Linked DNA regions of Homo sapiens: region 1 is linked to region 2. A link means that fine-mapping ties the variant in region 2 to the expression of a gene that starts in the linked region. Tissue or cell type: whole blood. Region 2 holds a variant in brackets; the other region holds the start of a gene. All regions are shown on one strand. Distances are between the middles of the regions.

Region 1 (8,168 bases), 33 kb after region 2:
TATTAGTTCCCTTGAGAGCTGGTTGTCAAAAAGAGCCTGCCACCTCCCTCCCCTCTCTCTTGGCATGTGATCTCTGCACATGCTGGCTCCCTTTTGCCTTCTGCCACAAGTGGAAGCAGCTTGAGGCCCGCACCAGAAGCAGATGCTGTGCCGTGCTTCACAGTATGTACAGCCTGCAGAACCATGAGCCAAAAGAAAATTCTTTCCTTTATAAATTACCCAGCCTCTAGTATTCCTTTATAGCAACAGTGGTCCCCAAACTTTCTGGCACCAGGGACCAGTTTCATGGCAGACCATTTTTCCACAGATGGTGGCGGGGGTGGGGGGTGGGATGGCAGTTTGGGGATGAAACTGTTCCACTTTAGATCATCAGACATTAGATCTCATAAGGAGCATGCAACCTAGATCCCTCACATGTGCAGTTCACAATAGGACTCGTGCTCCTATGAGAATCTAATGCCACCTCTGATCTGACAGGAGGTGGAGCTCAGGCAATAATGCCCACTCACCTACTGCTCACCTCCTACTGTGCAGCCCAGTTCCTAACAGGCCACAAACCAGTACCAGTCCGTGGCCCAGGGGTTGAGGACCCCTGCTTTCTAGCAACACAAATGGACTAAGACAAACTTGAATTTTAAAAAGGCTATGGAGAGATGCTAACACAGAGATAAATCAGAGATTAGAATTATCTGACAAAGATGACGAAGACCTCAAAGGAAACATCATAAAAATACTTCAAACAACAACAGATTTTCTTGAAACAAATGGAAAATTAGAAAATCTCGCCAAAGACATAGAAGATATAAAGAAGAACCAAAGGGTGATATCAGTGACATGGTGGAGTATCTCCAAAAATCCTTTCCTCCACAAAAACGAGAATATTTGTAAAAAATTGTCAAATAAACTTTTTTAGAACTCTGAAAATTAAGCAAAAACTTGCAACAATGTGCACAGTATTTACCTAAGAAAAATGCCTGAATCTCAGGAAGAACAGCTTGGTGGCATTTTTAATTTGTCATATTCTCACCCCTCCACCCAAGCTCCGTAACAACCATGAAAACCAACAGCCTGCAAACATGATGTAAAGCCTGGCACCAAGTGAAGAGGGTAGAGAGGTTGGAGCTCTTTAAAACACCATTCTGTGAGAAATGTCATCATTTCACCAGTCTGGTACTTCCTGGAAGATGCTATTCACAAAGCTCTCTGTAGTTTACCTGACATGGAGCTCAACTAGTATGAACAGACTTCTCCTAGGAAGCGTTTGTCAAAAAAAAAAAAAAAAAAAAAAAAAAAAAAAAATTCAGAGGTAATTGTTTAACATTATGACTGTCTGATGTGGTAGATAATAGGAATAAGGTGTCCTTAGAGGACTCTGAAAAGCTCAAATATATTCCTGAGAATTTAGAAAGTCATGCAAATAACTAGAACTGTGTACATGCCCAGAGCAATGTATATGCCCAAGAAAGACCTGAGAAGGCCCTAAATTCTCAACTTATGACTAATTTGAAGCTCTGAGCAAGTAAGAAGTGAAGGCTATACATGGAGCTGTAAATTGCATGGCTGAATGTTGAAAGCATGCCCAAAAAAGCATGCAGAGCCTCTCGACAAAGACTGGCAGATTTGTTGGTTTTGGGTTTTAAAGAAACCTCTGTCCAATAAAAGGAAACATAGTCCAATTAAAAAATGGGCAAAGGATTTGAACAGACATTTCTCCAAAAAGATATTCAAATGACCAATAAACATTTGAAAAGATGCTCAACATAATAAGTCGTTAGGGAAATGAAAATCAAAACCACAATGAGGTATCACTTCACACCTACTAGAAAGGGTAATAATTCAAAAGATGGACAATAACAAGTGTTGGCAAGGATGTGGAGAAATTGAAAATCATATCTTGCTGGTGGGAATGTAAAATGATGCAGCCACTTTGGAAAACATCTGGCACATCCTAAAAAGTTGAAGAGTTACCATATGACCTAGCAATTCCACGTCTAGGTATATTCCCTACCTGAGAGAAATGAAAACATACTTCCACACAAAGCGTGTACATAAATGTTCATAGCAGCATTATTCATAATAGTCAAAAATTGAAACAACCCAAATGTTCATCAATTGATAAAATATATCCAAACAATGGAATTATATCCATCAAAAGGAATGAAGTATTGATATATGTTACAATGTGAATGAACCTTAAAAACATTCTAAGTGGAAGAATCCAGTCACAAAAAACCCACGTTGTATTAGTGTGTTAATATGAAATGTGCAGAATAAGCAAATTTACGGGTAGAAGTAGATTAGTGGTTTACCAGGCCAGCATTAAGAGGCAGGAAGAAATGGGAAGTGACTACTATTAGTTATGATGCTTTTTTGGGGGCAATGAAAATGTTCTAAAATTGTGGTGATGGCTCCATAACTAAGAATATACTAATATACGAATATATTAGTATACTAATATCGAATTTGCTAAAAACAACAATTTTTTTTTTTTTTTTTTTTTTTGGAGAGACAGAGGTCTTGCTGGTTTGGAACTCCTGACCTAAAGCGATCCTCCTGTCTTGGCTTCCCCTAACACTGGGATTACAGGTGTGAGCCATCGTGCTTGGCCCAGATACTTCAAATGGGTGAATCTTTTGGAGATTCCTAAAATCCACATTTGATGAATGTGGATTTTTCAAAACTGTGTAAAATATCCATTACCTTTCTAAGATCACTTCTTTCCTTTAGTCTGCTTAAATGGAAAAGCTGGTAATTTCATCTGCGCCAACATTCATACAAAATAAAAATATAGTCTGTATTTAAAAGCAGCTTTTGTTCATATGCTTTAATTATTTCATTTACTAACACATCAAGGCTTGCTGAAGCAAAATAACTGGCCCGTAATCAAAAAGCAAATAAGAGTCATCTGGATTTCAACTCTGGTTGTCTTAAGCCAGCCTCAGCCTGCATTTCATGACATCCTTAGGGAACTCAGTGTGGATATGGATGAAACCATATAAACACGGAAGCTGTTTTCAACGTGCTTTAGAAATTATAACACAGCAATCATTCTGGCTACAATGTGGCAGGCACCGTACTCAACACTTTATTCACAAGGTGTTATTAGTTCATCACAACTCTAAGTATTAAGCTAATTCACAAACTAGAAAGATGAAACAGAAAGATACCAGGAATTCGTGCAGTTAAATGGAATACATCTAGTCCCAATGATCCACAGTATCGTCAAAACATAGCTAAGTTGGGGGCGAGGAAGCAAGCTTAGTAATCATCCAAACTTGGCTTAAAGTGTGGTTCTGACTGAATTCTCTGAGCTTCAATTTACTTAACTGTGAATCAAGGGTAGTAACAATGACCGCGTTCGACGATGGGAAAGACGCCACGCTCACAAGCAGACAGATCCTAGTACACCTGAAATCCAACCGGGAGTGGGGGACAGCGGCGGGGAAGTGGGGGTGTGGAAAAGACTGGTGGAAGAGCTTTTAGGAAAGCTCTCACCCCGTCGCTAGCTCCTTCCTAGCCCGAGTGCCAGCCCTTAACTTCACATTTTACAGATTCCCTCCCAGGTCTTGATCCTGCCAAGGAGGAGGGTCCCACCCCTTGCGGAAGATCCTCCTCACTCCACTCACCAACATGGGGACTCCATAGCCGAGAGTCTTGTTCTTGCGAAAAGCACGCATCACCGCGGGTGCAAACATGAGTGAACTCTTCCATCGGCTCAGAACTCCAAGCGGGCCTAGCGCAGACTCCCAAATCTCAGCAGCTCACGCTCTCACCAAGACGAGTACGTCCTTAACTCACTTCCTTTTCCTTGGTTATTTGGTGCTCGGTCCTTAGTGAATGGTTTCCGCTAGGCAAAAGCAATCGAGCCATCGTAACATACTTGTGCGTCCGCCCAGAAATGTGGGCGTCAGCGTTTTTGGTTCCGTAACGTCGGCGTGCAATTGGGATTTAGAGATTTGAATCGGTTTACGATCACCACCAAATTGATCTGGAAACCAGTACTTCCCACGTTCTGGGTCCTAACTAACGTCTGCTTAGAACACTCCCTTAGGCACATAGCCACTCGATAAAATCAGCTAAGGAAAAAAGTATTTTGAGGCCGGGCGCGGTGGCCTGGGTGGGTGGCCTGTAATCCCAGCACTTTGGGAGGCCGAGGCCGGTAGATCACCTGAGGTCAGGAGTTCTAGATCAGCCTGGTCAACATGGTAAAACCCCGTCTCTATTAAAAAAAAAAAATACAAAAATTAGCCGGGCGTGGTGGCAGGCGCCTGTAATCCCAGCTACTGGGGGGCCGAGGCAGGAGAATCGCTTGAACCCGGGAGGCGGAGGTTGCAATGAGCAGAGATCGCGCCATCGCACTCCAGCCTGGGGAACAAGAGCGAGACTTCGTCTCAAAAAGAAAAAAGAAAAAAAAGTATTTTGAAGCTGGTACTCCAGTCTTTATGGCTATTTGTGGGATGAGGAATTTGCCAGTTTAATGGAGACTTTTAAAAATAAATCGCTTTTGAAAGATTAGGTTGAAATGTAATCAGTGTAGTGTCTCATCAGTCATTACTGAACTTTTAATGCTAATGATTTTACTGTGAGATAACCTGTAATCTTTAGTCATTTATGAATGTCTATTTACCAATGATTCAGCAACCATACAGGCCACCTTTCAGCGTGTCTTTGAAAGGGTTCTAGGAACACAGATAAAAATATATGATCCTTACCTTAAAGACACTGGCGATTTCATGGGCACAGAAACAAACATGTGTGAAGTACTGGGATAGCTTAGGAAGCCGATCCCCCACGTGTCCCATTTACCAGAGTGAATCAGAGTGCAGGTGATGCGGAATATTATCTTCCATGCTATTCCTGAAATATTTCCATCTGTCCCTGCCTCTCTGTTACCACTGAAATGTTCCTTTTTTTAATTCCTTATCATCTTTTCACCTATTAAAGTAGCCTCTTAAGTGGTCTCCAGAAGAGAAGCTCCAGATCTACTGCAGGCTACTCCAGTGAAACTTATCCTTTTGGCTAAGATCAAGTGTAGTATCTGTTCTTAACAGTTTAATATTTGACACATTCTCTATCCAAGGAAAATATGTTAAATGGGTTTTTGAAGCAAGGAGATGGAATAGGAGTTTGCTCCACCACTCTACACATCAACCTGTATTTCAATACCTCCAGAAACCCAGGAACGGTGCATCTCTCCCATCTTATTTACTTCCTTTTGATATTTCAAAATTCATGCAGACCAGGCATGGTGGCTCATGCCTGTAATACCTGCAGTTTGGGAGGCTGAGGCAGGAGGATCATTTGAGCCCAGGAGTTCGAGACCAGCCTGAGCAACAAAGCAAGACCCCATCTTTACAAATAATAATAATAATAATAAATTAGCCAGGCATGGTGGGGTCTCAGCTACTTGGGAAGCTGAGGTGGGAAGATCACTTGAGCCCAGGAGGTCCAGGCTACAGTGAGCCGTGATCATGCCACTGCACTGCAGCCTGGGTGACACAGCTAGACCCTGTTTCAAAAATAAATAAATAAATCTCACGTGGCATCCAGGTTAGTTAAGCGTATCACATCTCCTACTTTCCCTAAGATCCTAGAAGCCAAAGGCGCTGCTCTAAAACTCTAGCGTTTTCCTACATCTTCACTACATAAAACATCAGCCTACTGGATACTACTCCATCAAAACCCGGCACCTAAGTAGTAGCTAATAATGGGTTAAATCGTATACATATATTCAAAATAATGCTAGAGTCGATAATCTTACACTTTTCAGATAAGGCATCTATCCAATTTAAGGCACTCTATGTCTTTAGTATCTTGTTTGTTCAATCACTCAAATAAGCATTTATTGAGAACCTTGAAATGGCCCTGAAGGAGTAACTGTGAACAGTAGGAATTACAGGTATGCCGGCAGATTGTCAGGGGACAAAATCTGTGACACTGAGGAATGTAAGCACCTATCAAATCATACTACATAGGTGGTAAATTTTACCAGCTATGCATAGCGCCCTTCTTAAGCATCACTACTGTATACTTCAGTTTTTCCATCTGTTAAATCGGAATGAGTGATATTTGTCATCAGTTTACGATTCTCACAAAAAGGGAACACAAAATTTCTTACCAGTATGGAATCTGTTGCCTTCCCAGAAATATGACTCAAATTCCATGTGTTTCCATTGTTAATAAACAGTTAAAATGCTGACTCAGCTATCTTAACTGTAAGAAGTTACAAAAAATGTATATTCAGGAAATGGGGCATCTCCACCATCTATGCCAGTCCCTGAGGACTGGTATGTACTTGATATCCAGGCAGGTTATATTATCCTCTAGTATCTGCTCTACCAGCATTTAACTCATGCAAGTACATGGGAGCGTTGTTATAAAACAAAAACAAAAACACCAGTCTTCTTGAGAGCTTTAGTCCTGAAGTTAGGTTTTAGAATTATGGCCAGAACTGGCCAGCCACAGTGGCTCATACCTGTAATCCCAGCACTTTGGGAGGCCGAGGCGGGCAGATCACCTGAGGTCAGGAGTTTGAGACCAGCCTGGCCAACATGGTGAAACCCTGTCTCTACTAAAACTACAAAAATTAGCCGGGCATGAAGGCGCATGACTGTAATCCCAGCTACTCGGGAGGCTGAGGCAGGAGAATCACTTGAACTCGGGAGGTGGAGGCTGCAATGAGCCGAGATGGTGCCACTGCACTCCAGCCTGGGCAACAGAGCAGAATTATGGCCAGAATTCATGGCTATGGTAATCGAAAGATTAGTTACTTCATGAATCTTTGTTTACTTTGATAATGCCATTGAATCTACTAATTGTTTTTTTTTTTTGAGACAGGTTCTGCTATATTGTTCAGGCTGGTCTTGAACTCCTGGGCTCAAACAATCCTCCTGCCTTGGCCTCCTAAGTAGCTGGGACTACAGGTGTGTGCTACCATGCTTGGCTTACCATCTAATTTGATTCACTCAAAAACCTTATGATAGGGGCAGAACATGATGCCAGACTCATCTTATAGGTTAACAGACTAAGGCTCAGAAAAGTTAAGAGGCAAACACAAGGTCTCACTTTGGAAGGGGTACAAATATCCCAAACAGAACTAAATTTCCTGTAGAATTGGACAATACTGACTATCTCCTTGAAATTCTCTCCTCCTGTGGCTTTTATGGAAGTTTCACTGCCATGGCTCCTCTCCAATGGTGAGACTTCTTTTTGTTGTCTTCAGACTTACAAACCTTAAACTGGAGTCCTTAGTCCCATTTTTTCCCTCTGTCTCAGTTACTCTCAAACTTTAGTGTGCACCAGAATCCCTGGGAGAGCATTAAAACAGACTGCTGGGCCCCATCACCAGAGTTTCAGATTTAGTAGATCAGGGATGGGGCCTGAAAATCTGCCCTTCTAACAAGCTTCTGGGTGATGCTGCTGGTCTGAGGACCACACTCTGACAACCACTGCTCCATCCTCTTTCCCTAGGTAAACTCCACTTTCACATTGGCTTCAAATTTTATCACAGCATGGAAGACTTCTGGTACACTTCCAGGAGCCTGAACGATTTTCTAACACCTCAAGGTCAACATGCCACCAAGGTTTATTTTAATCCTTTTCTCCATTCAATCTAATTTCTATGGCTAGAACTAGAGTAGCTAAGAGTTGGTCTAGTTCAGTCCAACTTGAAACCAGTTAAAATTGTCCTTGATATTGTTCAGCCAGAAAATCAACTGTTTCTTCTTTAATGCACTTTCTCTTATGATAGTGATCATGAACATTCCAAGTTTAGAATTATTGCTGTATTTGCCTTATTACTTTTTATGGAGTATAAGATATGGGGTAAACAGGACCATGCCTAATACATTTCTGTTTTCCATGACTTCCTTCATAGTACAAAACCACAATGCATAATTTTCTGGAAAAACAAATGAAATGACAGGAGCAGCCAGGAGTGGTAGCTCACATCTGTAATCCCAGAACTTTGAGAGGCCAAGGCGGGAGGATCACTTGAACCCAGGAGTTTGAGACCAGCCTGAGCATCAGAGCAAGACCCTATCTTAAAAAAATAATAATAATAAATAAAACAAACCAACAAACAAAAACAAGGAAATGGCAGGATCTTCCCATATCATGCTATACAGTGAAGGATGAAGAATACATGGCTCACTGCAGCCTCAACTTCC
Region 2 (8,200 bases):
AGTACTTTGGGATTTTCTAGCTATCTTTCTGTCATTGATTTCTAGTTTAATTCCATAATAGTCTGAAGGCATACTTTGTATGATTTTTATCCTTTCAAATTTGTTGAGGTGTGTTATATGGTTGTTCATAGTGATGAATGTTGTTTGAACTTGAGAAGAATGCCTATTCTGTTGTTGTGGAGTACGCTATAGATGTCAATTAGATATAGCTGATTGATGGTGCTCAACTATGTCCTCAATCATTTTCTGCCTACTTGATTTGTCAGTTGCTGATAAGAGGATTGTGTCTCTGTAAGTCTATTCCTATATTTCTCACATATTTGCAGCTCTACCAGTTTTTGCTCATGTATTTTGCTGCTTTGTTCAGTGTATATACATTAAGAATTTTATGTCTTCTTGGAGAGGGTGGGCCCCCTTTATTATTATGTAATGCCCCTCTTCTTCCATGATTTTCAGTGCTCTAAAGTCTGATTTGTCTGAGATTAATATAACTACTCAAACTTTTTGATTACTGTTAACATACTATATGTACTTTTCTCCCTTTCTTCAGTTCTGTCCACTCTGTTGATGACCTCATCAAAGTCACTGTTCTCTTGTTAGTTTTTTAATGCTAGAATTTCCTTTTAATTCTTCCATTTCTTTGCTTTTATTGCCCATTTGTTCTTGCACGTTGTATACTTTTTCCATCAGAGCTCTTAGCATATTAATCATATTTTAAATTCCCAGTGTGATCACTGCAACATCCCTGCCATGTCTGAATCTGATTCTGATGCTCATTTTCTCTTCAAACTGTGCTTTTTGTCTTTCGTTTTTGTTGACTGTTGGACGTGATGTACCGGGTAAAATGAACTCGAGTGAATAGGTCTTTAGTGATGTGGTGGTAATACATGCAGTGGGGAGCATTCTATAGGTCCTGTGATTAGGCTTCTTAATAAGCCTAGGTCCCCAGACTGGACATTCACAAGTGTTTTTCAGTCTTCCTCCACCTCTCCTCACCCCCATTTAGGTAAAACAGGAAGGTTGGAGGAGGCTGGAGTTGGTTATTCCCCTTCCTCCAGTTGTCTAGGCACTGGTAAAACCCAATGCAATTAGGTTCTAGCAAAAGAGTTTACTTTGGGGCCAGGCTTACATTAAATAAAACAGAATTCTCTGGGCTTATTTCAGAATAGTTACTCTCACCTACATCTGCTAGAAGCACAAGGGGATTTTTCTGATATTCACTATGAAAACCAGGTGGGACTCTTAGAGGTAAAACTCACAAGTGTGCCTTCTCAAATCCACACAAGGCTTGGCCTCCTCTCAAGAGATTTTCTCTCAATTAGTCCATGATCAGCCTCCAGGAAGTATTCAATTACCTTTAGATATTCCTACCCAATGCTGGCTCCAGTGGTGGTTTCTGGGCAGGTGCTCCTCCAGGTAAAATATGATTTTCTGGACCTGCCTTTGTCTCCAGTTTTCAGGGTGGTAGTTTGTCCTGTGACTTCAACTCAAAGTCAGAGTTTAGTTGTTCAGCTTTTTTCTTTGTTATGATGGGAATTAAATTTTTCAAACTTTTTACATATCAAACTGGAAACCAGAAGTCCCTTATGCTTTTAAAGAAACTGCCAATTTTCCAGACGAGTTGTACCATTTACATGATACCACCACCATGTGAGATTTCATTTCTCCACATCCTGGCCAGCATTTCATACTGTCACTAATTTTTTTTTTTTTTTAGGTATTCTAATAGATGTCTAGTGATGTCAATGTAGTCTAAAATTGCATTTCCTTCATAGTGATGTCAAACATTCTTTTCAGAGCTAATTTGCTATCAGTGTATCCTCTGTAGTGAAATGTTTCTATGTTTTTTGCCCATTTTCTAATTGGATATTTTTTAACTGAGTTTACAGAGTTCTTTACTCTAGGTATGAGTCTTTTGCCAGATATGTGGTTTACATGTGTTTTCTCTGTCTATATTTTTCATCCTTTTAACAGGGCCTTTGGCAAACAAAAGCTTGTAATATTGATGTGTCAATCTGTCAAGTTTTTCTTTTATCAATATTCTTTGGTAAGAGCTATTCGGTAAGTTGAAGCCTTTCTCCTGTGGTTTTTCCTAAAAGTTTTATACTTTTATGTTTTACATTTAAATCAATGATCCTTTTTTGAGTTACTTGTTTAATGAGTGAATAATAAGTGGAGACTTTTTTTCTCTGAAATCCAATTGCTCCCCCAGATAACTATCTTATGAATCATGTCTATCACAAATTATCACTAGATAATCAACTTAATTTACTTTTTATTAAAACCAACCTGCTGAAAAGAATACAAATTTTGACTAGGAGGAGAAAGGGGGAGTGGATTTATGATTTTATGGCAATTATAACAGGAGTGTTTCAATGGAGACTTTAGGCAACTAGAACTCAGCATGAAACCAGAAGGTAGAAGCTGATAAAGGCAGGGGTAAAAAGGAGAAAATGAGTTCAAAACAACTAACTTTCGGCCAGGCGTGGTGGCTCACACCTGTAATCCCAGCAATTTGTGAGGCCGAGGTGGGCGGATCACAAGGTCAGGAGATGGAGACCATCCTGGCTAACGTGGTGAAACCCCATCTCTACTAAATACAAAAAATTAGCCGGGTGTGACAGCATGTGCCTGTAGTCCCAGCTACTCAGGATGCTGAGGCAGGAGAATGGTGTGAACCCGGGAAGCAGAGCTTGCAGTGAGCAGAGATCGTGCCCCTGCACTCCAGCCTGGGCGAACAGAGCGAGACTATGTCTCAAAACAAAACAAAAACACTAGAGGGCAATTTTGCATGCAAATTATGCTAAGGCATAATTTTTAGTATTATCTTAGTATTTCTCAAAATGTAGTCATCTATGGATTTACTGAACAAATTTGCCATATCTGCTTATAATCATACACTACTTCATAATTTTTGACAACCATAAATAATATAATTTCCTTGACATGTTAATGGTATCATTGTAATTATCATGTGATGCTTTGGAGACTGATTATCATACTATGTGAGGCATTACAAAGAAAATCAAGACTCTTAGCAGACTGTGATCATTTTTCTTTCCCTAATAGATATGAGAGAAAATTACTGCTTGATTTTACTGTGAGAATTTGGATCCAGACCTACTGTCCTCATTAGGAATCAGAAATCAGAGAATCAGAAATCAGAATGAAATATCAAAATGATGCCCTAATGGCTATTGCAAAAGGAATATGTGGGTAGTTGGAGAGTGGAATACGTGACTCTGTTTTTGGAGCAGTATTCACATTTTTTATTTCGAGGTGTAAAATATACGTGGCCAACATTGTTACTTTCATCCACAGATGGAATAGCTGGGAAGTATAAAAACCTGTACATGACCTTTAGTGAAGATTATTTGTCATCAAATTACCCATATCCAAGTTTCCATGGGCCTGGAATTTCCTTTCCACTTGATAGAAGTATATATTAGGAAGTCCAGTTAATA[A/G]TATTTTTATTTAAAAAAAAAAAAAAGGAAAAAAGAATCAGCAGAGTCAAGTTGTCTTAGTCTTAAGGCTTTCTGGATTTCTTCCTTGGAGGAGGTCAGGATCTTCCCAAGGCCTGGGTCCTCGAATATTCTTCCAGTCATCAAACTTGGAGTCTTTGATTTTCTATAGAACCACAAAAAATTAAAGTATAAATATTAGTATAAGAGCCTGTGGCTTTGATTAGGACACAACTAACTCAATGAATAAATGAGTAGAAAGTATCCGATAGGTCCTCGATTACAACTGTAGCAAATAAATCAACTACAATCATTGATGAAATGTCATCTTAAGATTTAGAACTTTTCATTTGTTACTGATGTTAATGCCTATCTTACGCCACCTTAACCGTAAAACTATTAAAATAGAGAAAGAGTCTACATGCCTTATTTTTGAGAGGACAAGGAAAAGGCTGAAGCTGGGAAAACAAAAGTACAAATCTGAAGGCTGATCCAGCACAGTGACTGAAAGGGTTATCAGGGATGATGGTAGAAAATAAGAAGAAAAGAACAAAGGGTGGAGACCCTAAAGTCTTCTACAAAAAAGAAAAGAGACCAAGATCATTTGTCTTACGCCTGGGCTTAGGAATGAAAAGACTTTCCTACAGCTATCTATCATAAGCAAAACACTTTTGGGCAACTGAAACTAACTGCAACTACATTATGGATCATCCTACCTTCATTTAGTCTGAAGTACCTCTCAAGCACAAAAATAGTTGGAATAAAAGGGAAGAAATAAATGTTTCTTCACCTTTCTCCTACTGACCACCACTCTGACATTAACTTTTACATATCTGCTGTTTTGGTTGTTCTGAAATAATTGAGTAAGATGGAAAAAAAAAGCTGTGAAAACATAGGATAGCTTATATCCAGAGACAGGGAAAATGGAATAAATTTACCTTGACACTTGGATACTAAGCATTACTCTCTTACTAACTAGCTATATAACCTTTGGAAAGTAATTTAAGCCACCTGGGCATTAACTCTCTCATAAGTAACAATGAAAAGGTTGGACCAAATACTCTACATTTGAGAGTCTTCAGCTCTCAAATTCTACAGGTCCTAGAAGAACTAGAAGGAAAATCTACTCCCAGACAAACTCTTCATAGCATCATTACTGGTATAGCACTTGTAGAACTACAAGTTAGCAAGTTACAGGATTTTTTTTTTTAATCAATGGGAAAGTAGTAAATGAAAATACTGTTCACTTATAGTTTTACCAGGAGTCTGTATTACATATATACATGAAGGAACAAAATTCAACTAATTTAGCATACAAGAAGAATTTAGATTATTTCATAAGTATAGTTATGAAATGATCTAAAGTTATTAAAAGATTTTAATAAAGAATAATGGCCATTATCCAGGTAACGTAAGATATGTATGCTTAACAGAACTGAAGAAAATTCTTAAATAACAAGTTCATGTAAAAGTAGTCTAGCCTTTACAGATCTTTGGTGAAGGAGATTCCTTGTAGAATTCTACAAAACGTGCACAGTGGCTGAAGAATGGGCTATGTAAATGTGCTGAGAAAAACCACCCAAGACATAACACTTCACAGCCAACTGGTATAGGCCTGAGTGTGGAACAGCGTCAAGAAATGCTGAGAAAAAACAGTGTCAAGAATATGGAGTTTCCAGGCCTGCCAGAGTGGAGACCTTTCTTTTAACATTTTGTTGCTACCCTGACATCCACCTAAGACACCAAAAGGACTGTTCTTCAGGAGTAAAAATTATGCCTGAGAATAAGATTTTTTTTTTTTTTTTTTTTTTTTTGAGACGGAGTCTCGTTCTGTCACCCAGGCTGGAGTGCAGTGGCGCGATAAGATTTTCTTTAGACTCACCCCAACAAAGCTTAAAGCCAAGCCTTGACAAGATTCTCTGGGGAGATAGTCTGGAGATTGAGTCCCAACAAGGGAGAAGGGCCAAGGAAAGATAGCTAGCCCTTCAACAGATACTTCCCTACAAAGCACAAAATGAAGTTTAAGGTGATTAGCTAACAATTAAATTGTCAAAATAAAAATCAACACTCTTCAGAATTTTCTTCAGTGTATTATTCACAATGACTACCTTTCAATACAAAATGACCAGACATATACAAAGAAACAGGAAAATATAATCCAGTCAAAAAAATGACAAACTCAAAGACATGAAGAACATCCTCACCACATCCCATAATATAGCGTGCTGTTAAACTCCTTGATTTTTGCTAATTAGATGGGTGAAAAGTGATACCTCGTTAGACTTTGACATTCCTATTATGATAAATTGAGCATCTCTTCATATGTTTAAGAATGATACTTATTTCCTTTTGTCCAAAAGTTTTACATGCTATGCTTTCCCATGTTCTTACTGAACAAATGAATTGTTGAACTTTTTCACATTGATTTGGAGATGGTCTTCATATTTAAGTAAATTAATGTGCCATGATAAGATTAAACTATATCTGTAGGATTTCTCATGTAATCTGTGACTTTATATACTTTTTTCATTCTTAACTTTTGAATTTGTATGTATGAACCCATTGATCTTTACTTTTAGAGCTTCTGGGTTTTATATCACATTTAAATAGGCTTTTTTGACTCAAGACAACAAACAAAATTCTCCATTTATATTCTCCTAGTACTTTCAGCATTTTGTTTTTTACTTTCAAATTCTTGATCCATCTGGAATTTATTTATTTGTAGTATATTAAGTATGGATCCATCTTTTTATTTGCTTTTCAAATGATTATAGTTTATCAAATACCATATATATTCAACGTAATTTTTTTCTGTACTACTAATACTTTTAAGGCAGATAAAACCAGTAACTGATTGTTATAAGACAGAGACTATATTAACATACCGTACCTCATATTCCGACTCTAAAGATATTTTATTCTCTTTCAGTTTTTTTTCAAGCTCAGGATCCATCTGTAGAAAAGGAAAAAAAGTAATAAGTTATCTAAGTCTGTTTGTTAGACTCAATTTTCAATTTTAAGTTATAGAAGAGATGGCTGAAATACTATAGCCAAATACAAACACATGGCAAAATCTCCACCATCTACTCTGATCACATAATGATAACTAATGTACTACTGCCAGCATTATTCAACTAAAAAGAGTTAATATCTACTGATTACTTGTTATGTGAGAGGCATTTTGACATATATTATCTTGTTTCATCCTCACAAAATCCATGAGATCTGTATTATATGTAAGGAATATGGGACACGGGGTTTGAATAACATGTCAAAGAAGCAGAGCTTGGCTTTAAGTATTAGTTCTCTGCCTCCAGAGTTCACACTATTAACCACCAATCTAAATTATATTATGGAGAAATAACAAAAATACTAATATAATGCTGCACTTGAAAACAAAAAGGAATACCTTCCATGGGCCAGAAGTAGATATCTACCAAAAAAAAAAAAAAAAAATCCATAGAGGTAAAAAGGAGCTAATGCTATATTAACTGTATAAAAAGCCTTTCTGTATGTGGCAAAGCCTTCAGGAAAAAGAGTATGATGGCTGAAATCAATAAACAACAACTACAAAAAAGCAAAGATCAAATAAGTAAAATAGAAGCATAACCAGAGGATTTCACTGGAATAATGCATGAAGAGATAAAAATGAGATGAATGAAAAAAAGTATTTTACAAAAGCTAGACCTAAAAGTTCTAACACATAGCTAGAAGTTCCAGAATTAGAAAATAAAGGGGAGGGAGAGCAATAATTAAATAAAAATAGCAAAGAATTCACCACTACATAGCAATGAGTCCTCAGACTGAAAGAACATCATAAGAAATAAGCACAACAAAACAAAAACATTTTTAATCAAAGTGAAGTTGATTAAGAGAAAAAAGAGAAGTCACAAATAAAGAGTATTTAGATGAAAAGGTCAACAGCACAAATTCTATAGGCAATAAAGAGTATAATAATATGAATAATTTTATGCCATTAATTTGAAAACTTAGATAAAATGGACAGATTAATAGAAAAATACAACTTTCCAAAACTGACAAAGGCACAATAGACAACCTGAATAGTTTTACAATCTATAAAGAATTAAATCTATAATGAATAACCTCACACAAAGAAAAGTCCAGGGTCAGATGGCTTTGCCAGTGAATTCTCCCAAGGAAGAAATAATGCCAGTGTAACAAACACTCTGTATGAATTATGTGGTAAGCATAACCCTGATATCAAATTTCACAAGAAAATAAAAATAACAGGCCAGCTTCATATATGAACACAAATGCAGAATTCTTAGTGTAAAAAGAATTCAGCAACATACCAAAAAGACAGCATACCATGATCAAGTTGAATTTATTCCAGAAAGGCGAAGTTAATTTGGAAATCACAATGTAATTTGCAAACAAACTAATGCGACAGAACAGAGAATCCTGAAGCAGACTTAAAAACTTATATGAACAGTTGATTTATGACAAATTAGGCACAGAAGAGCAGTCACGAAACAATGCGATTGTCAATATTTGATGATTGCACAATTTCTTATCTATTAAGAGAATATATTCCTCACATCACATACAAAAAAAGAAAAAAATCAATTCCACATAGAATGTAGACCCAAATATGAAAGGCAAAAATCAAAACTTATAGTAATTCACATAGAAAAATATTTATACTTTGGAGTAGGGAAAATGTTTCTTAAAAATCATAAAGTAAAAGAAGAATAAAATATATTGTATTGAACTTTTTT

What was found. PIP is the estimated chance that this variant, and not a neighbour inherited with it, causes the effect.
Region 1: COX16 starts here. The variant in region 2 is fine-mapped to the expression of COX16 in whole blood (INTERVAL, PIP above 0.99). The same link has a PIP of 0.9 or more in lung and tibial artery.

The regions. Positions count from the first base shown.
Region 1 is chr14:70,355,893-70,364,060 of GRCh38, forward strand. It overlaps COX16 (cytochrome c oxidase assembly factor COX16), which reads right to left and starts at 3,791. Exons shown (of 4, transcript NM_016468.7): 1 at 3,627-3,791. The coding sequence starts at 3,695. All of the region lies in intron 3 of SYNJ2BP-COX16 (SYNJ2BP-COX16 readthrough), which reads right to left. It also overlaps the pseudogene RNU2-51P. RefSeq lists enhancers at 3,511-3,820, 4,281-4,370.
Region 2 is chr14:70,322,823-70,331,022 of GRCh38, forward strand. SYNJ2BP-COX16 (SYNJ2BP-COX16 readthrough) reads right to left here. Exons shown (of 5, transcript NM_001202549.2): 4 at 6,352-6,414; 5 at 2,259-3,627. The coding sequence ends at 3,511. COX16 (cytochrome c oxidase assembly factor COX16) reads right to left here. Exons shown (of 4, transcript NM_016468.7): 3 at 6,352-6,414; 4 at 2,259-3,627. The coding sequence ends at 3,511. Among named protein-coding and RNA genes, the nearest start is that of COX16, 33 kb to the right of the region's middle. The variant A/G (reference allele first, on the strand shown) is at 3,465.